Linked DNA regions of Homo sapiens: region 1 is linked to region 2. The links come from fine-mapping of genetic effects on gene expression. A gene starts in region 2. The other region holds a variant in brackets. All regions are shown on one strand. Distances are from middle to middle. Region 1 holds the start of FBXL22 (F-box and leucine rich repeat protein 22). Region 2 holds the start of USP3 (ubiquitin specific peptidase 3).

Region 1 (15,564 bases), 86 kb after region 2:
TGAAATGTTGATAGATTCTTTCAGTAATCTCAGTGCTCCTCAGGGTATCAAATTCCTGAAATTAAAGCTTCTAAACAGTTACTAAAGGAGATTTAGAATACCACCTGCCAACTCAGTAGTAGCCCTCTGAATGACCCCATGCTTCCACACACGGGGAGACCCCTTCAGAAAGTGGGTCTGTACAGGTTAAATATAGGGGGGGGAAAAAGGCTTCTCTGCTGTTGAGGCATTTCTGCTTCTCAGTGTTGTGTGGCTAGGTAGCACAGGCAACAATGTCTTGCTGGTGAATCATAAACCATCTGGCTAATGGGATGGAGAGGCTGGAGTGACAGTATTTCAGAGTCATACTCTCCCTGCCTTCTTATTTGCCTGTGAAAGTTTCAAGCAGACATTGTCAATTAAAAAAAATGAGCTAGGCACAGTGTGGCTCATGCCTGTAATCTCAGCTACTGGGGAGGATTGCTTGAGCCCAGGAGTTTGAGGCTTCAGTGAGCTATTTTATACTCCAGCCTGCATGACAGAGGAAGAAGACCTTGTCTCTTAAAACAATTTTTTAAAAAATTGTGGTAAAATATACATAGAATAAAATGTAACATTTTAAGTGTCTTAAGTGTGTAATTCAGTGGCATTAAGCACACCCAAAATATTATACAACCATTACTACTTGTAAAAATTTTTGTCATCCTAAACAGAAACTCTGTACCCATTAAACAGTAACTCATTACTTTTCCTCTCTTGTTCCCAGTAACTCTTATTGTATCCTCTATGAATTTGTCTATTCTAGGCACCTCATATAAGTGGAATCATACTATATTTATCCTTTTGTGATTGGCTTAACTTAGTGTATATTCAGGGGTCATCCATGTTGTAAGCATGTCTCAGAATTTACTTCCTTTTTGAGGCTTAATATTCTCTGGTATGTATAGACTACATTCTGTTTATCCATTCATCTGTTGACGACACTTGGGTTTTTCCCACCTTTTGGCTATTATAAATAATGCTGCTATGAACACTGGTGTAGAAGTATCTGAGTTCCTGCTTCCAGTTCTTTTGGGTATATACCTAAGAGTGGAATCGCTGAATCATAATTCTGTTTAACTTTCGGAAGTACTGCCAAACTTTTCCACAGTGGCTGTACCATTTTACATTCCCACCAGCAAGGTACAACGGTTTTGTTTTTTTTTTTTTTTTTTTTTTTGAGATGGAGTCTCGCTCTGTCGCGCAGGCTGGAGTGCAGTGGCATGATCTCAGCTCGCTGCAACCTCCACCTCCCAGGTTCACGCCATTCTCCTGCCTCAGCCTCCCTAGTAGCTGGGACTACAGGCACCCGCCACCATGCCCGGCTAATTTTTTGTATTTTTAGTAGAGATGGGGTTTCACTGTGTTAGCCATGATGGTCTCGATCCTCCTGACCTCGTGATCTACCCGCCTCGGCCTCCCAAAGTGCTGGGATTACAGGTGTGAGGCACCGCACCCAGCCGGTACAAAGGTTTTAATTTCTCCACTTGCTAGCTAACACGTTATTTTCTGCTTTTGTTTTTGTCTTTTAAATAACAGCCATCCTAGTAACTGTGAAGTAGTATCTCACTATGGTTTTGATTTGCATTTCCCTAGTAATTGTGATGTTGAGCATCTTTTTATGTGTCTGTTGGTCATTTGTGCCTCTTTGGAGAAAAGTCTATTAAAGTCCTTTCCCCATTTTTGAATCAGTTTGTTGCTGAGTTTTAGGAGTTCTTCATATATTGTGGCCATTAATCCCTTATCCAGATACATAATTTGCAAATATTTTTCTCCCATTCTGTGGTTCTCTTTATAGTATCCCTCAATACACAATTTTTTAATTTTGATAAAGTTCAGCTTATCTATTTTTTCTTTTGTTGCCTGTGCTTTGGGTGTCATATCAAAATCATTGCCAAATCTAATGTCATGAAGCTTTTCCCCTACATTTTCTTCTAAGAGTTTTATAGTTTTAAGACTTATGTTTAAGACCTTTGATCTATTTAAATTTTTGTATATGGTGTAAGAGTCCAACTTAATTCTTCTGCATGTTGATACCTAGTTTCCCCAGCACCATCTTTTGAAAAGATTGTCCTTTCCCCATTGAGTAGTCTTGTCATTCTTGTCAAAAATCAGTTGACTATATAGTAAGAGTTTTTTTCATTGGTCTGTATGTCTGTCCTTATGCCAGTGCCATCCTGTTTTGATTACTATACCTTTGTAGTAAGTTTTAAAATTGAAAGTATGAGTCCTATAACTTTGTTGTTCTTTTTCAAAATTGTTTTGGCTATTCAGGATTCCTTGAGAGTCCATGTGAGTTTCAGGATGGGTTTTCTATTTCTGCAGAAATTTCTATTGGGATTTTGAGAAGAATTGCATTGGATCTGTAGATTGCTTTGGGTAGTAATAATCATGTTAACAACATCAAGTCTTCCAGTCTATGAATGCAGGATGTCTTTAAAAATTTCTTTCAGCAATGTTTTGTAGTTTTCAGGTATAAGTCTTTTGTCTCCTTAAATGTATTCCTAAGTACTTTATTCTTTTTGATGCTACTATAAATGGAATTATGTTAATTTCGTTTTTGGAAATACCTAACAATGAATACATTGTTAGTGTATAGAAATGCAGCTAATTTTTGTGTGTTGATTTTGTATCCTGTCTTTTCATTCCCTTGACAGTATCTTTTACAGAGCAAAAATTTTTAATTTTAATGAAGTCCAACTTATAAATCCTTCTTTCATGGATTGTGCCTTTGGTGTTGCATCTAAAAAGCCATTGCCAAATGCAAGGTCATCTGGATTTTTTCCTATGTTATCTTCTAAAAGTTTTATACCTTCAGTCCACTTTATTTGTTTTTGTGGAGGGTATAAAAGTCTGTGTCTAGAATTTTTTTTTTTTTTTTGGCATGTGAATGTCTTTCAATTTTGTTCTTCTTCAATGTTGTATTTGCTATTCTTGGTCTTTTGCCATTCCATAATAAACTTTAGAGTAATTTTGTCACCATCCACAAAATAATTTACTGGTTTGAGATTGCACTGAATCTATAGATGAAGTTGACATCAATATAGAATAAAACTGACATCAATAGTGAGTCTTCCTATCCATGAATACAGGATGTCTTTATGTCTTTTAAAATTTCTTTCAGCAACATTTTATAGCTTTCAGGTAGTTAACTTTTTAACTGTAGGGTTTTACATGAGATCATGTGATCTGTCAGCAGAGATAATTATACTTTTTCCTTTTCATTTTGGATGCTTTTTTCTTGCCTGATTGCTTTAGCTAAAACTTCCAATATTATGTTGAACAGAAGTGGCAAAAGTGAGCATCCTTGTCTTCCTGATCTTGGAGGCAAAGCTTTCAGTCTTTCACCATTGAGTGTGATATTCACTGTGGGTTTTCATATATGGCCTTTGTCATGTTGAAGTTCTCCTTTTTTCTAGTTTGAGTGTTCAAATGATGATTTTAAATGTGGAAAATTCTGTGTTTCCTTTCCTTATTTCTTATTCTCCCTATGACCCCCGCTGTCCCCGCCAAGGCCATAGCTTTTTACATGATGTAACAAATACTTGCTGAAGAAAGCACCCATGACTTCAGCTGCAGAGCTCACAAGCACCATAGTGATCAGTCTGAAGGGATTATTAGTGCCAGCCAGCCAGTCTGCTGTGTAGTCAGTGCTCTTTCTTTGTAGCCAGAGATGTAGGACTTGGGAGGCTCCTGAGAACAGCATCACTCTATTTGCAAGTTTGGTTGTAATGTCTGAGACTTGCTTCAGGAATTGTAATGTCAAAATATAATACATCCTTTCCCAGGAACCATCACTGACATAAAATAGCAGGTTGAGCAGGTTGGCAATGTAGTATTTGTGGGAAATTGAGGAAAGAATGGTTAACTGTCCACTGGAGGTTGAGAAAGTCTCAAAGAAGTGAGAATTGAATTGAGTTGCAGGGAGGCGAGAATTGAGTTGTAGGGAGGCAGGCATAGGAATGTGCCTTCTAGGTACTAGGATCAGGCAACAAAGGCATATTCAAGACTGTCTAGTCCTCTGCCACACCTTGCCTCCACTAACTTTCCCTGAAGGGGCGCTGTCTGCTACTGTCGCGGACACAAAGGCTGACTATGGCTTGGAAACTTGAGTACAGAGACAAGAGCGCTTTTCTGTACACAGCTAGGTTTCTGCTTGCTACCCAACTTTAATATATTATTTAAAGATACATACATGTTCTATAAAGACAAATGACATAAAAGTCAGGATAATGGCTACTTCTGGGCAGAGGAAGGGGAATTATCTTTGGTAAGAAGCACATGGCCACACAGGTTGTCCACTGCACAACTCTAGGAGAGGCCGTGCACAGAGACCCTGGCTCCTTGAGTACTCGAGAAAATCCAAGTGTGGGGTCCATAGGCATTCATATTTTTTCTACAGAATAACGTGTATTTTATATAGATTTATGAATATCTGATTGCATCAGGAATTGGCACAGGGGCCAAAGAGTAAATACAGTAAGTCTTCATTTAATGTCATCAGTAGGTTCTTGGAAACTGCAAGTTTAAAGCAAAATGACATACAGCAGGTCCTCCAATAATAGTTTCCTTTAACGTTTAGTTATAACATTGATGAGAAAAAAGTGGTTTATCGTTGCTTCACATAAGGTCACAATTTTCAAGAACCTGTCATGATATTAAGTGAAGATTTACAGTGTTTTAGGCTTTGCACCACATAAGGTCTCTGCCCCAGTGACTCAGTTTGGTGTAGTGTAAAAGCAGCCAGACAATAATGTAAACAAGTGGGCATGGCTCTGTTCCAATGAAACTTTATTTACAAAACCAGGTGGCTGGCTGGATGTTTTAGGACTGTAGTTTACTAAACCCCAGGTTACACAATTACATCTTTAAATGAAAAAAAATGTAGCTGTGATTTATCTAGGAACTGAGAGTACAGCGTCTGGACAGAGAAGGTTGATAGTGTAGCCTTCTGTGATCTATGTTTATTTTTAAATTATCTAAATTTGACTTTTTTTTATGAGTTTGGAGCTTTGTCCTGTATAATGTAACATATTGACAGAAAACTACAATTGAAACTTTAAATTCATCAGGAAACCATTTTATCAGAATTATCCAGATGAATTATCATTAATAGTAAAACCAACACAATTGATCATCACCAGATGTCAGGCATGATGCCAGGTGCTCTACACATTATTTCTCTTCCTTATAATAGTTCTTCAAAGTAGGTATTATTTTTTGTCTCCAGTTTGCAATTGAGAAAGGTTAACTTTTCTAAGGTCGTATAGCTAATAAAGCTGAGATTTTAAACCTGGGTCTTTTTTCTACAGTACATTGCCTCTACAAAAGGCATCTTGTTTTAATGCTGCCAAAATCAATTTGTTTAGATTGTCTTCGCAGTTTTACCGACTTAGAAGAACTTGATGAGACAGAGTTATATATGTGCCATAAATGCAAAAAGAAACAAAAGTCCACAAAAAAGTTTTGGATTCAAAAACTACCCAAGGTGAGTGTTGAATTTTGAGTTATGAAGCAATTTCAATGGGAAAGTGCTTGACTGCTAAGACCATGTCTATAACTTTACACTATGTGAACTGTTCTGTATTTTTCTCTAGGATTTTCAGTAAAAGCTAAACCCCTTACAGAATGAATGCATAAGGTATGCATGGAAGAATGATTGATAGGGCAGCTAAAATGTTATTTACTGAACTGATAGTAGTATCAAACTTTGACTGAAAGGTAAATTAGGTGTTCACAATCTTTGACCGCATCTCTGTCCTCCAGGTGCTATGCTTACATTTGAAAAGATTTCATTGGACAGCATATTTAAGAAATAAAGTTGATACATACGTAGAATTTCCACTGAGAGGCCTAGACATGAAATGCTACTTACTAGAGGTAAGGTGGTTACCTTTTTAGCATGGTGAAAAAATGGCTCTTCAGTAAGATTGTCATCACATGGAGAGGGTAGAGGTCATCGAGATACTGATGTCATTGACCACTGCTCCTTCTTCCTTGTTCTGTAGCCTGAGAACAGTGGCCCGGAGAGCTGCCTGTATGACCTCGCCGCTGTGGTGGTGCACCATGGTTCCGGGTGAGTACAACAGCCAGCTTCTGGTGGGTGGGAATACCTGGTGGCCAGCCCAATGACCTGCAGTTTTGTACCACTCTTGCTAGTTCTTCCTAAAAAATGGATTCAGATAAAGTAGGTGAAATTTCCTTCAGTTTTGGTGCGGAAGAGTACTCCTCAGATGATGTTGTGAAGGCTTAAGGGAAGGTAAATAAAAGTGAAATGAAGAATGGTTCATTTGAACCCAGTATTTACGACCCAGTCTTTATTTGTCCACAAACTCCAAAGTTGCTTATTCGTTTACCAACTGAAATTTAAATGGGGCAAAAGGGGAAATTACTTGGAATAACTTACTCCATATCATCTACTTTAAAGACTCATTTTAAGTCTTGTTAAAAAACATTAATTTTTTCCCCTGAAAGTTTGTATGAGGGGTCTAACCTTCTGGTTTTTGGTTTGAGAGTGGCTATTTTACCTTCAAACTTAAGACTACTATATGTGGGCAGACGACTATCCATGTTGAAAATCCTTTTCCCGCAGAGCTGTGATAAAGTAACGTCTACACTCACATAGTGTTATGAATGACAAGTCTGATTCTCACTACTTTACAGGCACCTGGCTTTTTTCTCCTTGGAGTGTATTCCTGCTTGGTAGTTGGTAGGGACACTTTTAATTTGGTGCCTTCAGCTCATGAAACTCTCTATACTGTAGGTCTGAAATCATTTGTTCTCTGTACCCCTATTATATGCATAGTGAATTTCCTGGATCTCCCTTCCACATGTCTTAAATACTCTAATGATTTCTGTCTGTGTTTCTAAAGACTGCCATGGCCTACTTTTCCAAATCACCAATTTGGGTTTCATCTGTATCCAAATAAAAGATAAGCTCCTCCATAAAATATTTATATTAAATCAGTCACATTTTTCTGACAACTTTTTCGTAACAGCCTATTCTTGTTTTATGATTGCACTATCTTTTTGAAACTATTAGCACTAATTTAAAAATGTAAAGTTCTCTTAGGTTTTCTGCATTCAATTCCTCAGGGTTGATTGCCTTGCTTGTTCTTCCCGGTATTTCTTTCCCCTCAAAAATGTGATTTTGTAGGCGTGCAAAAGGCTTGTTTTTAAAATTTGGTTTTGGTGGTTTATTTGGAATCATAGTAAATGATGAGATGGATCTTTATTATTTAAATAGGGTTTTCCTGGCACCTACAAAGGTCTGTTCTAGCTGCAGGCCTTCCGTCTGACTTGGAGGACTGACTCCAGGGTTGTGTGTGTGAGTGGGTGGGTCATGCTGATAGGGTAGAGCCCCTGATGACCACGGTGTCAGGGAAGGGTGCCCTTCTTTGTTAAGCTTAGTTTTTTCCTAAGATTCTGATGGGAAAACCTGGTACCTAGTTTTCCATGTTTCCGTAGGCTTTGACCTGTGCTTGTTAGGTTGCGAGTTCCTCATCTCTGTTTTCTCCATTAGTCCAGGGCCATCTGCTTTGTGTTCTAGCAAACCCTCGATTTCTGGTCAGTTTGGAGGAAGGTAAAAACATTAATTTAACAAGCATCTTAAATCAAAAGTCTAGGATGTATTCTTATTAAAATTTAAATCTAACATTATATAGTTGTACAGGTCTTTTTGTGATTTCTGAGGTTCTTTTTTCCTTTGGTCTTTTGCCTTTACAGGGTTGGTTCTGGACATTACACAGCATACGCAACTCACGAAGGCCGCTGGTTCCACTTCAATGACAGTACTGTAACACTGACTGACGAGGAGACTGTGGTGAAGGCGAAGGCCTACATCCTTTTCTACGTGGAACACCAGGCCAAAGCTGGATCGGATAAACTTTAATACCTCCTCCAAATCATCATTCACCAACCATACCAGAGAAACATTTCCAGTTTTCCACAAATACTTGATACAAGATTTAATTTCATTATGCACTTTTCAATTTCCTATTTTGGATTTAGTTTTGTCAATGGTAGTGACTTACTGAACATGGGCACCAACTAATTTTGTTGTTGTTCTACCAGAAAACCTCAGCAGATGTTTTGATTTGCTGCTTTAGTTGTAATAATTCAATTTTTATAGGTAGTTGTAAGAACTTAGTCTTATTTGACTTTTTTATTTTATGTTAATGTTTTCAGTTCTCACTTTGAGGCACATTTACATCAATGCTTTTGTTCCTCTCACATGCTGAAAGCAAGATGTGTTCCTTATTGTGAAGAGCGACACAACTGCCTGCTGCCTTTCCACAGCTATAATGGACATCAGGTTGACTCTAAATCAAGGATCATGTGTGCACAATACTTGTGGCCCACAAAATTTCACAATGACTGCTGAGGAATCATTCTTTTTGCCTGTAAAATATAACAAAGGGCATCATTAAGTAGACCAGGTAATTACTGCTTGTCTCTCAAGGCTGCTGTCTTTATCAGCACTAACTAAATAAATTTGTTGGTTCAGTTGTACTTGTCCTGCAAATACAAGAATTACTCTCTTTGTTGGTTTTTTTGGTTTTGGGGCATACTTGTTTGCGGGGAGGTAAGATGGGAGTAAAGACCAAATACATGTAATGTTTAAAAAAAATGCTGTGACTCACTGACATGGTATAGGTGTTACCAGTGAGGTAAAGCCATGGCGTCTGCCTCCTTTTGAATCAGTATCTCATTCCCCCTTAGTTGTACCACTGGAAGTCACGACATGTCCATTATAGACTTACTTACTGCTTGTGTTTGGCATCTGAGTCTGAGGTGTGACCCTCTGGGATTTACTTGGATCATCACCCGCACTTCAGTTTATCACTGGGGGGTGTGCTTCCACAGGAGGAAATTTAGAATCTTCGCTGCTCTGGGTTTTAACACCTCTCTCTGGCCTATCCTGATTGATAGGACAAGTTGAAAATACTGTTGGAGTAAGTAAGTGGAGTTTTCGTTTTGTTTTTTGGGGGTTTTTGGAGACAAGAGTCTCTCTCTGTTGCCCAGGCTGGAGTGCAGTGGCACGATCTCAGCTCATTGCAACCTCGGCCTCCCGAGTAGCAATTCTCCTGCCTCAACCTCCTGAGTAGCTGGGATTACAGGTGCCCACCACTACACCTGGCTAATTTTTTTTTTGTATTTTTAGTAAAGACGGGGGTTTACCATGTTGGCTAGGGTGGTCTCAACCTCCCTCCTGACCTCAGGTGATCCGCCTGCCTCAGCCTCCCAAAGTGCTGAGATTACAGGCGTGAGCCATCACGCCCAGACAGTTTTGTTTTTAAAAAACAGATTTAACTCAAAGATTCAAATTTGGAACCAGAATCCCATTTAAAGAAAGCAGTTGTGGTTTCTACAAGTGTTCTAAGACAGTCCTGTGGTGGTTTTTTTTTTTTCTTTTTTTTGGTTGGGGGCGGTGGGGGTTGGTAGACATAGCCTACCAATTCTCCACAAGGGACAAAATGTATCTTGTGTTAAGCCAACGAGACTTTCTGGCAATTTTTTTTTTTTTTTTTTAATGGAGTCTTACTCTGTCCCTCAGGCTGGAGTGCAGTGTGGCATGATCACAGCTCACTGTAGCCTCAACCTCCCAGGCTCAAGCGATCCTCCCACTTCAGCCTCGAAGTAGCTGGCACCACCACACCCAGCTAATTTTTAATATTTTTACTAGAGATGGGGTTTCACCACGTTGCCCAGGCTGGTCTTGCACTCCTGGGCTCAAGTGATCCACCCACCTTGGCTTCCCAAGGTGCTAGCATTACAGGCATGAGCCACCACGCCCAGCCTGTTCTATTAAAAACATCTTGACCTTTTTTTTTTTTTAAGTTTATGATATAAAAACAGTCTGGTGGCTTTCCCTCAGGTTGGATATCTGAAGTTGTGGGAGCAGATGTAGCTCCATTTCCATTTTAATATTAACTGGATAAATCCCACATCTTCCCAGAACACATCTGCTAAACACTTTAACATGACAAGGAGCAAATTACAATTATGTGTAAACTTATATCATCCAGTACAATGGCCCCTAGCCACATGTGACTGAAATTTAAATTAGAAACTCAGTGCCTTCAGTCACACTAGCCACATTTCAAGTGCTCAGCACCCACATACGGCGTAGGACAATGCTGGTCTAAATTTTCACTCCAAAGAATAAAACTTTGCCATCATGTTTAGGTCTTACAACTTTGAGTCCTAAAAGATAATAGGGAGATGTGTGCTTAAATTAATTTACAATGCTAAATTATATTAGGTTAAACTGTATGAAACCCTGCTATTTGATGAGTTCTGATCTACAAAAATGACAGCTCCACCTGATCTGATGTATCACACATTAACATCACATCTAATTCAACCTGAAATGTGAGTCTCCTTTGATCTTGCAAAGTATCTCCTATGAATCCGGGCTCTTTTGCTTAGAAGGTAGACAGCTGTAACCTCTAACATTGATACTTCGATCTTCAGTCTCTCTGAATGGGCAGCTGTTAAACAGTAAAGGCCTGGGCAGAGTTGATGGTGAAAAAAAGCTGTATTTTTATACCAAATGGAACTTCAGCAACACGTTGGACTACTTTGTCGGGCAGAGTGGTCTTCAGACAGGTGATGCTGTTGGCTTAAGAGATGAACACGTCTTCTCTCTGAATTTGTTTTTATTGGTTGGTTTTACTTGAACAGAAACGTTTGAATGGTGTGAAGATTCTTTAGAAAAGTGATTGGATCCATCTCAATTGTGCACTTGAACAGCAGTGATGTAAATGTGCTTATTTGTGTTTTCATTTTTAACTGTGCAGCCTTACCACACCTATTTTGAAAGCTGATCTTTTGTCCTCTTCAGGGCTTTTCCCTTGTGCCATGTTGTCTCCAGCAATATATGTGGCTTCTGGCTCAGAGCTTCTGCTGAGGCAGGGCCTCGCGCTGAGTCACATGGCTCCTTGGAACAAGAAAACTTTCTCAGAAGTCCCCACACGGGTGGGTGACAGAAACAGTTTGTGGCAACACAAATCTCTCTCCATGGTGGAGAAACCTTTGCTTATCCACTGTATTCTACTCAGTGTATAGTGATGACAGATGTACTAGAATTAAACCAGTCAAGTGTACTGGCCCGGGGTGAGTGTTAAATGTGTATCTCGCCTGTGGAACCTACTCAGCAGCTTGGTTTCTGGGGTTGGGGGCATATTTATTTCTTAAAGCCAAACCTCTCCTTCATTGGTTTAGTGTACATAAGTCTATTTAGATACACTTATCCCACTTTAATCTCCACCAGCCCCTAAACTCTCTCCTGTACCCTCTGTTGCTGAAGTGGCCTCTTCACCTGGGCCCTGGAAAAGCCGATGGAAAAAGTCTGTTCCTGCAGCCAAGGCCTGGGTCCCAGGTGACTAGGAGTAGCCATAGGAAGGTGAGGAAGGAGAAGTGGGCATGTGGTGTCATCTGTAGTCCAAGGTCTCTGCGTCTCGTCAGTGGGTGCAGTGCCTTCCCCCTCAGGTGTGAGCGTGATGGACTCTAGACTGCCTTCCATGAGTGTTGGTCATGCTATGATGTCATCATTTGCCATTAAAACCCAGTTTGTATGATGCCAAGAGGATTAATTGTGCAAGTGACTGATTCATTTAAATTGTAATCACATCCCTTTTCTGCTTCACCAACCTGAACTGTTTTTAAAAATATCATTA[A/C]AAGTCTGTTCTCTTTCCTTTTGACTTATTTCTGAACACCTTTTTTCAGTAGAGCCACATAAATGATGATGTACTTACTCAACTCGTGGGCCTCCTCAGTCAACAGGTAGCAAGCTCTTACAGAATCCCCACGATTTGGAGCTGCAGTACCTGGGCCAGGATGAAGTGACCTGTATGGGCAAAGTGATGGCCTGGAGATGAGTGCCTGCAGTCAGGTGCCTGAGGTCCCACTCGGCCTTGCCCAGTGAAATCACCCTCAGTCTCTTGTGACTATTGATCTTATAAAAATGAGGCCCCTTCCCTTCCCCTTTAGAGCTAGACTCTACCCTGAGGCACTAGTTTTGGGGCTCTGAGCAAAGGATACTGGTCATCTTTTAAGGTAAAACAGGCAAATAAGTGCTTTTAAATAAACATCCTGTTTACAGTAAGTTCCTATAGACTACTTCCCTGCCCCCATGCCTCCTGCAGACAGAACCCTGTTTCCACAGTCATCCTTTGCCTGTTCTTGTCAGTCTTCTAAAATTGAAGACACAGGTGCCTGCAGCTCAAATTGTTATGCATCCTTGTTCCGTAGGGCACATTCTTTTGGCAGCTGTGCTGGTCAGAGGCTGCGTGGTTGCTGTCACTGCTGCCAAACAGCATAGCTCTGGACAAGCCCAAAGGGGCAGAGCTTCGTCATCTCCTGGCTGTGCCTCAGACCCTCTGCAGCATGCAGGAGCACATTCCCCCTGGCCCTGGTAGTCTAGGATGCTTCCTGCAGCCTACCTGGAGGAACAGCAGAGGGGCAATGCTCTAAATGTTCTCCCTGCCAATCTTTTGCCATTCCAGCTGGGCTGCAGTAGTGCAACTTGGAAGCCATGCTGAAGCACAGTGACACTTACTCAGTGGAAGGCACAAGTACCACTCTGGCCTTGCAAGAAGTGGAAAGAACCACCTATTCCTAAGGGTCAAACCCTCTGAAAAGCATTGGTTTGAGGAGGATTGGGGAGGGAAAGTGGAGATAATGTGGCTTTCTAATAACACCACCTGTGGTTTTGCAGCATCCATTTTAAGTGGAGAAGTACACCTAGACAGAGCCTAAATTAGGGTGTCAGCTATAATTCAGAACTACATTGATGAGCTTGAAATAGCAGCAGTATCTTGCTCCCCTTCCTTGGGAAATGCTTCCTTTCGACCTCCTTGGTTTGTTTTTAAGAGAACCCCCTACTGTACTTCATCTTGGCATGGTGGAGTAATGGAGGCACAGGGGCACCAGCTGAGGCTGGCTTCTCAGGAAAGCCACTGACAATGGCTACTTCCTTCTTTGCTTGACTGCCTTCTGCTTTAAAGGCAAAGCTGCACCAGCCCTGACCAAACCTTAGTTCCAGAAGTGGGTTCAGCATAGGCTGCTTCATTTGTGTCTATGGGAAAACACAAGGATTCCCATTCCCTCTTATTCCAAATGGGAGAACAAACAGAAGTAACCACTGAGGTGGTGGTCCCTGGGCTGGCAGAGGAAAAACCATTCTCTTCTCACTATTGCCTAGGCAGAACGTGGCCTATACAGCTGCACCATATCAGCATCCCCCAAGCAAACCAAAAAACAACGACTGGGATTCAAAGCAGGAGAGTTAAGGTTGGGTCCTGGGTTTGGGAGTGAAGCAGCATGAGGAAACGGGTCTGCCATATCGTGAAGCCTCGGGTACTCAGGAAGGGGGAGCTTCACGGATAGTACCTCCAGGCACCTTGCCTAGAGTTGAGTCAGAGAGGGCAGGGGTGGCCCACTGGCTTCTCCAAGAGGGAACGGAGGGCACTCATAGAATGGATGGTGTGTGGTCAACTTAAAGGCAAAGATGGACTAAAATACTGAACTTAAAATTGTTTCAAGCAGTTTCACATTAAGAGCTACCTCATCCATCCTGACATTTTGGGAAGTACAGGTTATACATAGTACAAGGCCTTATCAGTGAGAAAATGTAAAGCCAAGTAAATTTAAATTTAAAACACAGAAAGTACTGCTTGACCAAAACTACAAAAACAACAACAACAACAACAAAGCACCAATAAAACATAAAACACAGACACACAACTTTGGAAAGCAGCTACTTCAGTAAAATTCTTTTATGAAACAACTCAGGGTAAAAATCTAGCTGTTGGGGAGGCCCAGGAAAATCCCCCTGCCTAGTGGCAGGCAGCAGGGCTTGAAGGCCAACCAGCCTAGCCTGGAGACAATTACTCTATGGCACAAAAATAACAGGAATGAGGCAGCAGCCATGGACTCTGCTCACAACTCACAACCGTCACCCTTAGCTCTCCACACGCAACAGGTTTCTTCCTAGTAAGGGTGGAGCAAAAGATTCACACTGATGTACTAGAAAATCAAAACAGTTAACATTTACAATTACACTCCTTCCCCCTAAGTACAGACTGCAAAGCCAGACAGAGCTGGCCTGGCCGCCACCACTGCCAATGAAAACGCCTTGGGAAAAGCCAAAAGTGCTCACTGCTAAACACCATTGTCAGCTAAAGGGAAAAAAAAAATCCCTTTTAAGGAAAGTAACTTCAATAGGCTCCTTTTCTGCCAGGACCTCCAATCCCTCTGAACATAAGCCGAACCACAGACTGCCGCACATGTGTCTGGGTCCTGGCTTTTCTTCCCTCACCCCTCCGCAGAGCTTCAGCACCAGTTGTTAGCCAAAAATAAACACCATTCCTCAACCATATATGTCCACCGGCCCAGAGTCGGGGAGGAGGAGAGGAGGCAGGTCAGCCGTCCCCCGGCTGCAGCTGCACTCACATGTGGCCACTGCTCACCATGCACATAACCCAGCTCAACCGGGAGTGCCTGCTGCACCTCTTCTCCTTCCTAGACAAGGACAGCAGGAAGAGCCTTGCCAGGACCTGCTCCCAGCTCCACGACGTGTTTGAGGACCCCGCACTCTGGTCCCTGCTGCACTTCCGTTCCCTCACTGAACTCCAGAAGGACAACTTCCTCCTGGGCCCGGCACTCCGCAGCCTCTCCATCTGCTGGCACTCCAGCCGCGTGCAGGTGTGCAGCATTGAGGACTGGCTCAAGAGTGCCTTCCAGAGAAGCATCTGCAGCCGGCACGAGAGCCTGGTCAATGATTTCCTCCTCCGGGTGTGCGACAGGTAGGCCACCTTGCCTCCTGAGCAGTGCTGGCCCCGCTAGCTCTGGCTTCCCTCTTGGGGGGCAGGGAAGAGCAAATTACGAGACCAAGATGGCTCCACCTTCGGGGCGCCTCAAACTAGGCCCAAGGCAGACATCCAGACCGCCCAAAGCAGGGTCCCCAGGAGACAATAAAATCATGAGGGAAACAATTGCTAATCCTCCTCTTAGCCTCACAGGTCCTGGGCTGCTTCATGCAAACACCAAGAAGTGGGGCCTCCGTACTGGTAGTCATTAAGTGCTGGGTGGGTCCAGCTGGGCCTGGATTTTCAAGGTCAGGCTCTGGGAAAAGGCTTCCAGATGCAGCAATCAGCTCACCCCTCCATTAGGCCTAGCAAGCAGCCCTCAAGGCCTGGGAAACTACGGAGGAAAGAGAGGGTGGGGAGCCAGAGGTGGAGAAGCCAGGGTGCTCAGGTCAGCTGAGCCAAACCAGACTCCAGGAGTAGATGAATTACTGATTTACACAGTATTCCTAAGGAGGGTGGCTTAGCCTAATTTTTCAAATTAGCAAACTGATGCTCCACGAGGTGGTATGATTTGCCCAGTCTAGGGTTGCCAGATTTTAGCAAATATATAGGCTGCCCAGTTAAATATGAATTTCAGATAAACAGTGAATAATATTTTAGTGTAAGTATGTCCCAAATACATCTTGTGTTTATCTGCTAACCCCCACCCCAGACACAGACATAGACACTGAAC
Region 2 (12,882 bases):
GGAGTCTCACTCTGTCACCCAGGCTGGAGTGCAGTGGCGCAATCTCGGCTCACTGCAACCTCCACCTCTTGGGTTCATGTTGTTCTGCTGCCTTAGCCTCCCGAGTAGCTAGGATTACAGGCGCACGCCACCACACTCAGCTAATTTTTGTATTTTTATTAGAGATGGGGTTTCACCATGTTGGCCAGGATGGTCTCCATCTCCTGACTTTGTGATCTGCCCGTCTCGGCCTCCCAAAGTGCTGAGATTACAGGCGTGAGCCACTGCGCCCAGCCCCAGCCAAGGCTTTCTTGTGATTTCTGCTCAGACAGCGTTGGCTAAAATGGCCACACCTAGCTACAAGGGAAGCCGAGAAATTTCGAGTTGTGAAACCAAGAGGAAAAGAAAGCACATTTGGTGTAAACAGCAGTCTCTTCCACAGCACACAAAGCAGTGTTGCCTCTGCTGGTGTCACTGGATGACTGTGAACTATCACCGGATTGCTGGATTCTCTCTCTGGAAAGGCCCTCAATGGTCATTTAGTTCAACCCCCGATTTTACAGATGGAAAGAAAGATTGGGGCCCAGAGAGAAGTGACTTATCTACTATCAAAGAGTTGTTTGGGGCCGGGCAAGGTGGCTCACGCTTGTAATCCCAGCAACTCAGGAGGCTGAGGCTGGAGCCACTGGAGACCTGGGCAACATAGTGAGACCCTCTCTCTACAAATTTTTTTTTTTAATTAGCCAGGTGTGGTGGCACATGTCTGTGGTTCCAGCTTCTTGGGAGGCTGAGGCAGGAGGATAGCTTGAGCCCAGGAGTTCAAGGCTGCAGTGAGCTGCGATCCTGCTCCAGCCAGGACGAAAGAGACCGTGTCTCAAAATAAATAAATAAATAAATAAATAAAAGTTGTTTGGTGCTAGAGCCACACTGTTTTGCTTAATCTGTCAGTGCTTTATCTGCAAAGTGGGTCTTTAAACAAGAAAACCCCCTCATCTCCTTCATAAAAGGAGATTTCAATGATAAAGAGGAAAGCGTTAAAAGCAGTATAAGTCAATATGTTGATGATGCGGTAATTACAACAATGGCACCGAACATAAATCTTTCTTCAGTTACTCAGAGGCTTGTCTGTGTCCTGTGGTCACTAAATGACTCCATTATTCGGAACTTTGGCTTCTCCTGTGTAATACTGCAAAATCATTGACATGACCATGTGCATGAGGGGTGAAACCTTACCTCTTTTGATAAAAGACCAGTTACTGATTGTGTAAATTTGTGCAATTATTTAACATTCTTTGAACTTTAGTTCTCTCACCAGTAAAATGGAGATGATAATATCCACCTCCAAGGTTTTGTTTTTGTTTTTGTTTTTTTGTTTTTGCATTGGTAGGGGGGAAGGATTAAAGAAGAAATAAAAACCATAGTATTTATTGGGTCCCAACAAGTTGCCACAGTATCAGACACCTAGTTGGGACCCAATAACATGTAAGTTTCCGTTCTCAAATAGTTGAGGTCCTTTCTCTGAATACTTAGGGGACCATATCATATAATTATTGCTGTAATCACTTTAAAAAGGAGCACTTCCAACAACATTCAGTGGACAAATTTTTTAAGATCTGCTATTGCTGAACTAGGTGCTGAAAATCCTCAGATGAAAAAAAAAAAACAAAACACCTATTCCCAAGACAGACTGAAATGTGAACAGAAAATAACAGCACCATGTGAGAAGTGTGCTTGGGTGAGTGACGGAGGGCTTCCCGGAAGAGGCTATGTGCTTCATGGGGAAGGAGTAGGAGCAGACCAAGTAGAAGGGGACCAGACAGGGGAGGACACGGAGGTATGAGGAAGCACAATTTCTATGAGGGGACTATTTGAAATACTTCTGTAACAGTTAAAAAAAAAAAAGTTATAATAAAAGGGAGGGGCCAGGTACCTGTGAGAGCAGTGGGTTTTGGATTTTTTCCAAAAGGTGGGGAACCACTGAAGAATTCCAGCAGGGAGATGATGTGAAAGGGGTAAATGGGAAGTAGTGGGGAGAATGACACCACCAGTATTCCTGAGTGGGGAAGTGAGAGCTGGGTGGTTGGAGCCCACACCCACCCCTCTCCATTTATTTAGTCATTCAACAAATAGTTACTGAGGGCCTGCCACCTACCAGGCTGTATTCCAGGGGCTGGAAATCAGGCAACCAACAGCACTGGCAAGATCTTTGTTCTCATGGAGACTGACAATAGATAAGCAAGTAAACATGCAAGGAAATATTAGATAGGTGCCACTAGGAAAATTAAACCAGGCAACAGAAGAGTCTCTGAGCGGCAGCGGCCCATTCCCTGCCCCCAACACTTACCAAGCCTCCTCTTGATATAACTTTGGTTTCCCAAGGAGGCGTTGCTCCTAGAACAATCTCTATGGTAAATATTAATAATTAAGCCATCTCTCGGAGTGTTTCCAATGAGCCTTCCCTGGGTGAGGATAGTCAGAGCTAGTTTTCCCCAGGGCCTGGTCTGCCTTGTAATTGTTGGTTAAGGACCATCAATTCTGCCAAAAGTCCTAAGTTTAAGGTTTTAGGAAAATCGCGGCAACCTTGAGACCTTTCCTGAAGTGGTTCCCCTGCAATATATGACCTTGCCCTCCCCTCACTACCGACCCCACTTCCATGTATATACACAATTATCCTTTAGGAGAGAAACATTTGATAGTACGGTTGCAATTTTGCATTCCTCCCCTTTGAAAAATGCAAACTTTTAGAACAGGCCCGCCGCTTCGGGCAGGTTTTGCCGCGGAAACCACCCTCCCTCCCCGCCCCCGGATGTCCAGAGGGCTGGGTGGGGAATCCCGGGAGCAGCGCACTCAAGAGCACGGGAGCTGGAGGCTGGAGGCTGGCTCGTCACCATCAGGGCTCCCTGGGATGTAAGTCAGAGCTCCTCAGTGCCAGAGGGATGCGGGCCAAGAATAAAAACGCGAATGTTGTATTAAATGCAGCTGAAGAAACGAGGGACTGAAAAGGCAGATTTCCCAGTGTGCCTCATGGTCTTCCCCCATTTGACTCATTTACTCACTGCGGGTTTCTTTTTCTCCACTCTTTTCTTATTATGGAAACTTTCAAAGACACAGGAAAGTTCACTATTTTAGGGAAATCTAGCAAACGCCCCAGGAGGGCCTCTCTGATTTTGCCCAACTTCTCTGGACTGCCTGATAGAGCTTGCCCTCTGGGGACTATCACAATCGGGACTAAATTAGGGCCCCTGCTCCCAAGGGTTTTTATTCTAGCTGGGGAGAGAAGTCACTAATGGAAACTTTTTTTTCCCTTAAAATAGCTTACACCTTACAAAGCACTTTCACATTCCTGATTCCGTTAAAATCATAAAGCTAGAACTGAAAGGAAATTTAGAGATCATCTCTAGGGGTCAAATATTGGCAAATATTGGGCCACCTGCTAGGCTCTTGCCCATGGTAGACATGGCTAACATACCGCACACTCACCCGTTCATGTCATGTATTCACTTACTTATCAGACATCCTCCATGTTCTACATTGCATGTTAGAAATAAAGCAGAAAACCAGACAGACTTGTTTGCTACCTTATGGACAAACAAGAGGAAGAGAGACATTAAACAAATAATTACACGCATGAAGAGTGTTTTTAGGCCGGGCGCGGTGACTCATGCCCGTAATCCTAGCACTTTGGGAGGCCTAGGCGGGAGGATCTCTTGAGCCCAGGATTTCGAGACCAGCCTGGGCAATATAGGAGACACTGTTTTTTTTTTTGTTTTGTTTTTTGTTTTAAGTGTTTTTAAAAGCCGGTGTTGGGGCAGACAAGGACATCACACACTGGGAGGTACCCTGCGGGTGGGAAAGGGTCGGGAAAGACTCCCTCAGGAAGTGATGTTTAAACTGAAGTCTAGGGGATTAGGAAACGGAGTCTCTGAGAGGGTGAAGAAATATTACATACCAGTATGAAGCATGGCCTGAGTGAGGTCATGCTCCAGGGCCGAACAAGGGGTTATGGATGCTAAGTGGGGGTGGGTGTCCGGAGGAAACAGAAGGTTGGTGGAGCAAGGCCTTAAAGACAAATAGGTTGACATGGAGAGATGGGTGGAAGAACTTGAGCCAAGGGCAGATATTATTGTTTCTCCTCCTCCCGCTTCCCAGGGAAGCAGCTCTCATCTAGTGTCAGTAAAAACAAATACAAAGTTATAATTTATTGGCCACCTAGTATGTGGTGGCAATTTTCATGAATTCTCACATGTTCCTTGCGAGACAAGTATTCTTCTTCCAGTTTTACAGATCTAGAAAAGGCTTGGAACGGCTAGAGACGCTTGCTAAGCCTGGCCGTCAAGTAGGCAGCAGAGCTAAGATTTGAAAGCATGCCGGCCTGCCTTCCTAGGCAGACGCACTTTCCACAACGCATCACTGCCATAAAAATCCCAGGCCGAGGCTTGCTCTAACAGCAAATACCACTTGGAAAAGGACAGATCTTTGAGGACCCAGAAATACTTCTGGGGAAAGGATGAGCAGAGGTGCCCCCGGTGGGTGGATACCATTAGGCAGAGGTCTATGCGGAAGAGGCCGACTTGTGGCGTGGGAGGTAGGGAGGAGTAAGAAGTGATTGACGGGGCGTCCCTGGCTGCTCTAGGACTGCATTGCGGGGAGGTGCCCGGCTCTAACCACTGCCCGGCCCGGTTAATCATTTCCTGACCTTCCTTCCTCCTCTCGCTCTGGCCGCAGGATTGCCACATCAGTCTTCCCCCTCCTCCTGCTCGCCTTCTGGCCCCGAGGCTCCTTCGCCGGGTTTTACAAGGAGCCCCAACTTGGAAGCAATATTTGTAATAGCCCCGGACGTCCTCAAGTGCCCCAGTGAGATCGCAGGCTCGATCCAGGGTATGCCGGCCCAAGCGGCCCCTTGAGGCTTGCCCTCTTCTCTAATCCCTCACTAAAAAGAGGTCAGAGGGTCAGGGATCCAATCTCCATACAGATCAACAAGTTACAGACTCGGTTTCCCCCTGCGGTAAAAAGGGGATGGTAACAGCTGGTAGGGTGTTGCGAGGCTTAAATGCGGTATGGGAAGTGCCTGGCTGGGAGACCTTAGGTATCTAACAAATGCTAGATCCCTTCCCTTCTTATCGCCTGGTAATGGGGAGTTTAGCTTGCCCAGCAATCCCAGGCTACGTTTATCTCACTTGAACTTCCTGGCTTGAAAGTCCTACGATGTGCTGGAGGTAACGCAGATGGTGAGTCACAGTGACAGGATTTGAACGTGGGTTCATGGGCGCCCCTGCGGGCCCACCCACGCAGCATCTAGGTGGCTGGCTAACGCCACGTGTTCAGAACCTAGAAAGGGCTACGGATCGCACCTGCCGCAAGGAGCCTAACGCTAAGTCGGGCGGGACTGCCCTGGCACCCATGAAACCCGCTGCCCGCCTCCCCCGGGGCCAGGCCCTTGGCCTCCCCAGCTTGTTTCTTCGTGTATAAAATGAGGGCCACGGTGCCTGTCTGCCCGAGAGGTTTTAAAGTTCTTCTTTACACTTTGCGGAGCGGCCGGATTTTTACCACGAAGCCACCGAGTAGTCCGCACCACATAGGTTCAGTATCCTCCGCCCACCGCAGGAAACGCCGCGGACGGCCCGGGGTGCCCTGCTCGGCGCCCCACCCTTCCCGGGGCCGGGGAAGCGGCGTGACTAGGAAAGTCACTTCGGAACACAGCCGGACTCTGCGCCACCAGCTGGAGCTCGCCGGGACCCCACCCCGCGGGCTGGGCGGGGGCGGACCCGGGGGCGGGGCGGGGAGGGGCCGGCCTGGAAAGGCGGAAGCCTCCAGTCTAGGGGTGGCTGCAGAACCCGGATCTCGGAGTTACACGTTCTACGGAGCGGGGCGCCGGGAGACGGCGGGCGAGAAAACCCGGCGTCCGGAAGCCCGTGCTTTCTTTGACGCAAGGGCTCGAGACGCAGCCGCCGTCGGCCGAGCGCCCGGCTAGAAGCGACACCAGACGGAGCCTCCGGAGTTCCTCCGCCCCCACCTCGCCGGGTCCTGGAGCCGCAGTCCTCCCAGCTGCCCTCCTCGTGGCCATGGAGTGTCCACACCTGAGCTCCAGCGTCTGCATTGCTCCGGACTCAGCCAAGTTCCCCAACGGCTCCCCGTCGTCCTGGTGCTGCAGCGGTGAGTGCGGCCACGGGCCGGCCCCGCAGCGCACCCGAGGCCGCGGCTCTGCCGGGCCTGCCGTCTAGGGGCCGCAGGCGGCCGGCGCGCGGACTCGGGGAGGGGCGAGGGCGAGCCGGGCCCGGCGGGCTGGGGAGGGTACGCGATGAGGCGGGCGCGTGCGGGAGCGGCGGCGGCTCCTTTGTTTCCCGAGGCCCGACGGCCGGGCCAGCGAAGGAGAGGGCCGCGAGGGGCGGGAGTCCGCGGAGGCCTCGAGCGCGTGGGGGCAGCGGCAGGCGGGGACCCTGGCCAGCTGCGTGCGCCCTTGCCCCGCCCTGCCGTGGCCGGGGGCTGTGCCCGTCCGTGTTGCGGGGTCGCCTGTGGGGCGGGTGTCCGGCCCCCGAGGGGCGGCCGCACGTGTGGCGGGGCCCGCGCCGCGCTTCTCCGCAGACAGGGCGGGAAGAGCGCCGCTCTCCGGGCGCAGCTTTGTCTGGGCTGCGGGGCGCGCGGGGCTCCTCTCCTCCGCCGAACCCGGCCCGGGTTTCCTTTCCCTTCTCCGCAGGCTCGGGCACCTCGAAACCCCGAGAGGCGCTGGGAGCTCGGGCGGCGGAGGTCGGGGTCTTTCATCCGTCAGGGATGGTGAAGTTTGAAAACAGGCTGCGGGCTGAGAAGCTCGGAGGCTGAGCCAACAGCTGCTTTGGAGGGGACTGCTCGAGTTTGTTTTTCAGACCTTTTGGGTTGTCCGAAAATGCGTTGGGATTCCCAGTTCCTGTGTTGTGAAACACTTATTAGATTTATATAAGGCTTTTGAGTAGCTTAAGCGTTTTAACTCCTGCTGGCCCCCTTGGAAGCCCCAGTGCCCTCTCATTGTCTGCTCTAAGCGACTTCTTAGGATCGCACCGGCCACACGGCTTTGCTTACTTCCTGGTAGGGCCCTGGTGCCACCGCTAGTCTTTGTTTATTAGCTTTGAGATGGTCACTGGTATCTTGGGTTATATTAATAGCGTACAATTCGAATTGTGCACTTCAGAAATCTGAAGTTCATTTGAAGAAATATAGAAAAACGGCAATGGTATGATTTAGCTGTGACATGTCTCATTGTGGGCCGGAGCTGGGAAGATAGTTTAGAGAATGCCTTAGCACTTTTGACAGCTTACTACTTAAATAGTGATTATGTTCTTGGAAACAACATCGGTAGGTCCACAAAGAAAAATGTACTCTGGGATAAGGAATAGAAATAACTGCGGTTTCCTGGCGCGCTCAGACGTCTGATGCTTTGCTTGCCTTTGTAAAGTCAGGTATCTTTTTCTGCATGAAGCCTTTGAAAATTAACGGTTAATTGGTTTCACAGAGCAGTATTGCAGTTCTTTTGTGAGGATGCAGAAACTTGTGTAAATTAGCTTTTACCTGTAAATCTGTCGGGATGTTGAGTATAGAACAACAAATAAGGTGTATGGCACTGCTTTACAAATTGGTTGGTGGTGGTACATTAGCTATAACTGTAGCCATTGCTGTGGTGCTATAATTGTAACTTAATTTTTTTCCCAAAAGAAATTTGAAGAAAAAAAAAAAGACCAAAGTAAACACTAGGAGAAGCCTACCTCACAGGGAATGGTGGGATTGCTCTTGCTCATCTGTAGTAAACTACAGAAAGACAACATGGACAATTAGCACACTTCTGGCATTTTTTAGGTAAAATCACATCAAACTTAAAAATGGCTTCACTGGGCACATACATCTAAAAAATGGAAAAGAACTGTGCAAGTGGCAGATGCCCTCTTGTGAGTCAGTCTTGCCTCTGTCAGTCAGGGAGTCCACTTGACTGTGAAAAAGAGATGCAGGAAATTGAGCATCTCTTGAGGAACTTAATAAGTTAAAATGGAGCATAACGAGATGTGCTGATAACAAGAATAAACTAGTATGTGGGGTGATTTCTGTTCAAGGGGTAGGATGACATCTTTGCATCTTGCAACAAAGTGTGTCTGACATATAGCTTTGCAAGCCTGGGTCTAGTCACTTACTTGGATTTGTAGAACCAATAAAGCGAGTTTCGCAACTTTGTGTGAGTCCACACTCTGAATTGAACCCATTTTATGTAGGCCTCCCGTCTTAACCCGTTGGCATCCATTTGTTGATATAATCTAGCGTTATTGTATTAAGCTTGATCTTGTTCTTGCGTGCCTGTCGTTTCAGTGATTAAATGATGAATCTGTGAGTCCTTAACTAACTCATTATCTTGGAGTGTTATATAGTCGTATTTTTTTTCTCCCACACTCTTGATTTTATTTTATTTTTGTTTTTTTCATAGGGGACCAAAAGGGTAGCCGATGTGTTGACTAATACTGTGACTGGGTATTGAATCTGATTATGTTCTTATTAAGGAGGGGAAAATCCCTGTTTTGGCACTGGGACAATAAAAGTAATGCCCTTGCCTTATTTTCTTTGCGAGTTTGCAATTATACCACGGTAAGACAGCCAAGCAAATTGCAAAATGCCACAACATTCTAGGTTCTACCAGTTAGCAGTACCTAATTGGACAAATAGTTCTATTTTCTTTGAGTATCAGTTTCCTTATATAATCTGCAAAGAAAAGGGTAATACTTTGCATTTACTTCACAGGTTGCTGTTAGGATGAACAAGGTAATTTTTTGTGAAAACTTTGAGAAACTTGTATACACTGTTCTAGTAATAGGTGGTATTAGAGGTCAGAACATCTTTGTAAAGAGGACTCTGAATAATTAAATATCCAAAGCCCATTAAATGGGGACTAGAACAGACTGGCTTTATGCTGAATGATGCTTTACAGGGAGATACAGAACTCAACAAGATTACAAGAAGTAAGAAGTAATTATACTTCAGAATTAGCATGAGCTTCTTATCCATGGAAGGCACTGTGTGTTGGGTTATATAATTGTGTATGACAGTGGTTCTTACACTTTTTGATCTTAGGACCCCTTTACACTCTTAAAAATTGTTGAGCACCTGAAGAGCCTTCGTGTAGCTTATATCTGTTGATGATGTTTATTAGAAATTAAAACTGAGAAAAACTTAAAATATGTATTTATTAATATGCTTACAAATAATAATAGACCCACACCCATAACATAAATTGACAGTTTATGTAAAATGTTTTTCAAAACAAAAATTTAGTGGGAAGAATGGCATTATTTTGCCTTTTTGTAACTCTTTGTTCAGCTTTATAGAAGACAGCTGGATTCTTACATTGCTTCTGCATTCAGTCTCTTGAGATGTCACATCATGCAGCCTCAGGAACACCCCACTGCATGCTTGTGAGAGAATGACTGTAAACAAAAGTAACATCTTAAATATTATGTATGAAAATTGTTTTGACCTTCTGGATCCCCTGAATGGGTCCTGGAAACTTTCAGGGGTCCAGGACCACACTTTGAGAACCCACTTGTGTAAGCTATAGTTAACAGTTAAGGATACCTGCTCATATCAAAATAACTTTAAAAAATTAGAGAAATCCTTAAGGCTACCAACGTTTATGTTTCTGTAGAGACCTGAGGTTTTTGAAATGTATTAGCTGGGAAATAGAGCATGGGCTCTAGTAGTCCTTTGCTGCCAAAAAAGTTAACAGTCTAATCTAGCTGGGGGAGAGACAGGAAGCTAACTAGTTAGAAGATACATCCATGTGGTTTAAGGTAAATGTTGAAAATAGCTATCTCCTAATAACGTAAAGGCTGATTTATGTCTAATTGTTGCTTAAGGGATTCTAGTTTAAAATGAAAAAGTTTTAAATAAAAGGGCATTCTCTCAAGCTTTTTGTTATGTGCACATACCAGATGTTATTTTCAGAAGTTGGAGGCTTGGGCATTCCTTATTTTTGTGGGTAAAAGAGTTTAACCAGTGGGAAAAAACAAAAATTGTTTAAAAAGATGCCCTGAATGCAAGTGTTTTGATAACTAAGGAAAGCCAAGGACCAAGCATTTGAACTTGAGGGTTTGGGTTAAACAGCCAGTTAAATTAGAGATATTTAGTAGGATAGGCATGCTAATTTTTCCCTGATTAATTCTTCAATGAGTTGAGAGTGCCTCTTTAAGTTTTCAGTACACACTTGCCTTCATATTACTCTACCCAAGAAAAGTAAGTGTAGATCAAGTAAATGTTCTGCAATTTTGCACCAAAAACTGCAGATAATTCCACCCAAAATACTGGAGATAAACCCTTTTTTAAGAGATCCATTCAGTAGGATGAGGTGTTGATTATTGGTTGTCAGTGGTAATAAATTTGTAATGGACTGATCAGGTTGTGATAAAGAGAAGAAATCAACCTTGATGGAGTGATGGGTTATTTTGTATCGTATTTCTCCACAACCTACATTTAACACTCGTTTGCCCAGTGGACTAAATTTTCTAAATACAATCAGTCATTTCCTTGTCATTAGGTCAAATGCTTTTACTGCTTTTTAGTAACATTCTATGATGTCTTTATTAAGTGCCTAATACTTAATAGAGCAATTAGTAAATATTTGCCTGATAAATAAAGGAACTATCACTTAGATGTGTCTGGCAGGGTCTTTATGTTGAAAATAAACGCAGAGTGAACTTTCCCCAGAATGCTTTCACTAGCCCGCACTCCCAGTATTTTAGTCAGTAAACGTTGGCTGGATTGTGAGCAAATGACCATCTGCAGTGTTGTTATCACAATGAATTTGTGTTCTTTTGGCAGTCTGTATTTATAGATGGGCAGGTGGACAATTTAGTTGTAAATGTGGATGGGGTAGTTAAAAATCAGTGGACAGGTGATACTTTTTTCACATTAATTCTAAAAAGTAGTATTTGAGTTTTATATATCCTTCTGAAGAATTTAAACTTTTTTGGTAATATTTATAAAGCTTAAGTCAAATGTCTTTCTAGTCTTTCTGCAGTATTCCTCCCCAACCCCGTCCCCCAGAATCTTAGAGCAATCTCAGCTTATTTCTAGAGTCTCTAAATGATTGCTCATGGATGTGAAATGTGTGAAATTTAGAATGTGCTCCATGTATGTGTTTTGTTTAAAGAAGCTTCAGTATAGAGATTGAGCCTAACATTTACTTGTTGTGAAGAAGTTTTGACACATTGATGAGAAGTTCTTTCCCTAATAATATGCTTAATAGTGTATACAGAACATCCTTCATGGTCTAAGCAGAAGAAATGATGGAGTTGGGGGAAGAATTCGAACTCTTTGGTGTGGTTTCCTGTTATTTATCCTCAAAATAATTTATTCTCATTCTTTGCTTGTACACCATTAGCCTTAGGCTCGTGTAACAGCCTCCTTTTTCCTCATTGAAATGTATGTAATTTCCTTCTCCACTGGAATATAAAAGATTGATTTTGGATCCTTCAAGCTAGATTTAGAAATACTTATGTTTTTATAGTGTTTGCAGCTCAGTGAGTAGACCAGTGAGTAATTTAGTGTGTAGCTCAGTGAGTCATTTAAATTCCTGTTTTAAAATTTGAGTCCCTCTTCCATCAGGAGCTGATTAACATGTACATTTCCCCTAACCTAACCTGCTCGTTTTTTTTCTTTTTGAGCTTTTCTCCCCTTCTTGAGCTTGTTTGTTTGTTTTTAATATTTTTCCTTCTTTGAAAACAAAATGTTAGTCTCCTTTGATTAAGCTGCAGTCTCTGACCTACATACATACAGGTTTGTGTTCAACCAAGGCATTGAAATAAATAGATTTAGTCGGTAGATTATCATTGTTTGAAGTGGAAAAGGTATGCTGTTTAACATATTTTGATATTTTATGTTTATTCATTGCCTCTTTAGACAGGAGAGCAATTGCATTCTAGGTGTGTTAATAGAGCTTTCCTGGACAGATGGCTTGGAAGGAAGTACTTTGATGGGTTCTCAGTAGGGGCTAGTACTTTTTGGAGGGTGTGTTTGTGATTAAGCTTACCTTGATTGACAGTTTAGAATGCTGAGAATAGCATTAACAACAGTAACAGCTTGTTCATCTTACCTAGAATTGTCTTGTGCCAAGACCCCTCAAGATGCTCTGAGATTTCTGTGTAGTGGTTTCTTTTGAGAATGTAGGTAAGAATAGGTGTCCTTGAGACTGAAAAGAAATTCACCTAAAATTGTTCATTGTGGTTGTATCTTAAAATCTTTGGGGTCGTTGAATGAACTTTGGCTTAGAAATTTGTAGAGATCGTCTTTTTAACTGCTGTGAGTCTGCAGATGTGATTATCTATAGTAATTCCAGATGTTTTCTCATCTATTAGTTTTACTGAGTAGGAAGATAACTGAGAACAACATAAAGTAACTTCAAAGCAGTTTGCTAGCATTTAATCCTGACTAATTTAATTAATTATTCATCCTTGTAGTTTTTCCTATTTTATTGATTATGAAACTGAGACAAAGGTTACGAGTTGCCCAAGATGCTTGGGGAGTATTAAAGATAGCCCAAAGCTTAAACTCTAACACTGTTCAGACTTTTAGCTTGCTTTTTCTTAAAAAAAAAAAAAAAAGAGTCTTTATTTTGTTATTCAGTAACTTAATGCTTGACAATTTAAAAAATACAAAATGTTTGGAACACATACTTTAAATAATTCCTTTGAAGATTTTTGATATGAAAATATATTTTAAGTTCCACATCTCAAAAATTACTTATTTTAAAATTTGGTCTTTTGTTACCCCCCTCACCCAATTTAATATTGAAAGTGCTGGCAAGTTGGAACAAGGAATTGGTGATATAGTTTGGAAGAAACAACTATTTTAAATGTCAACCTTGTTATACTCAGATCTAATATTTTTATAGGCCGAAAT

Evidence for each region.
Region 1: its variant is fine-mapped to the expression of USP3 in whole blood (TOPMed, PIP 0.99).

Annotation. Positions count from the first base shown.
Region 1 is chr15:63,582,918-63,598,481 of GRCh38, forward strand. It overlaps USP3 (ubiquitin specific peptidase 3), which reads left to right. Exons shown (of 15, transcript NM_006537.4): 12 at 5,388-5,506; 13 at 5,785-5,898; 14 at 6,027-6,094; 15 at 7,744-11,716. The coding sequence ends at 7,909. It overlaps FBXL22 (F-box and leucine rich repeat protein 22), which reads left to right and starts at 14,470. Exons shown (of 2, transcript NM_001367807.1): 1 at 14,470-14,828. The coding sequence starts at 14,476. It overlaps USP3-AS1 (USP3 antisense RNA 1), which reads right to left. Exons shown (of 3, transcript NR_034080.1): 2 at 11,778-11,869; 3 at 4,793-6,183. RefSeq lists enhancers at 7,548-8,747, 11,789-11,838. The variant A/C (reference allele first, on the strand shown) is at 11,700.
Region 2 is chr15:63,498,699-63,511,580 of GRCh38, forward strand. USP3 (ubiquitin specific peptidase 3) reads left to right here and starts at 5,895. Exons shown (of 15, transcript NM_006537.4): 1 at 5,895-6,132. The coding sequence starts at 6,042. RefSeq lists enhancers at 4,175-4,968, 4,447-4,496, 4,969-5,761 and silencers at 5,487-5,826, 6,177-6,286, 6,357-6,556, 6,627-6,706.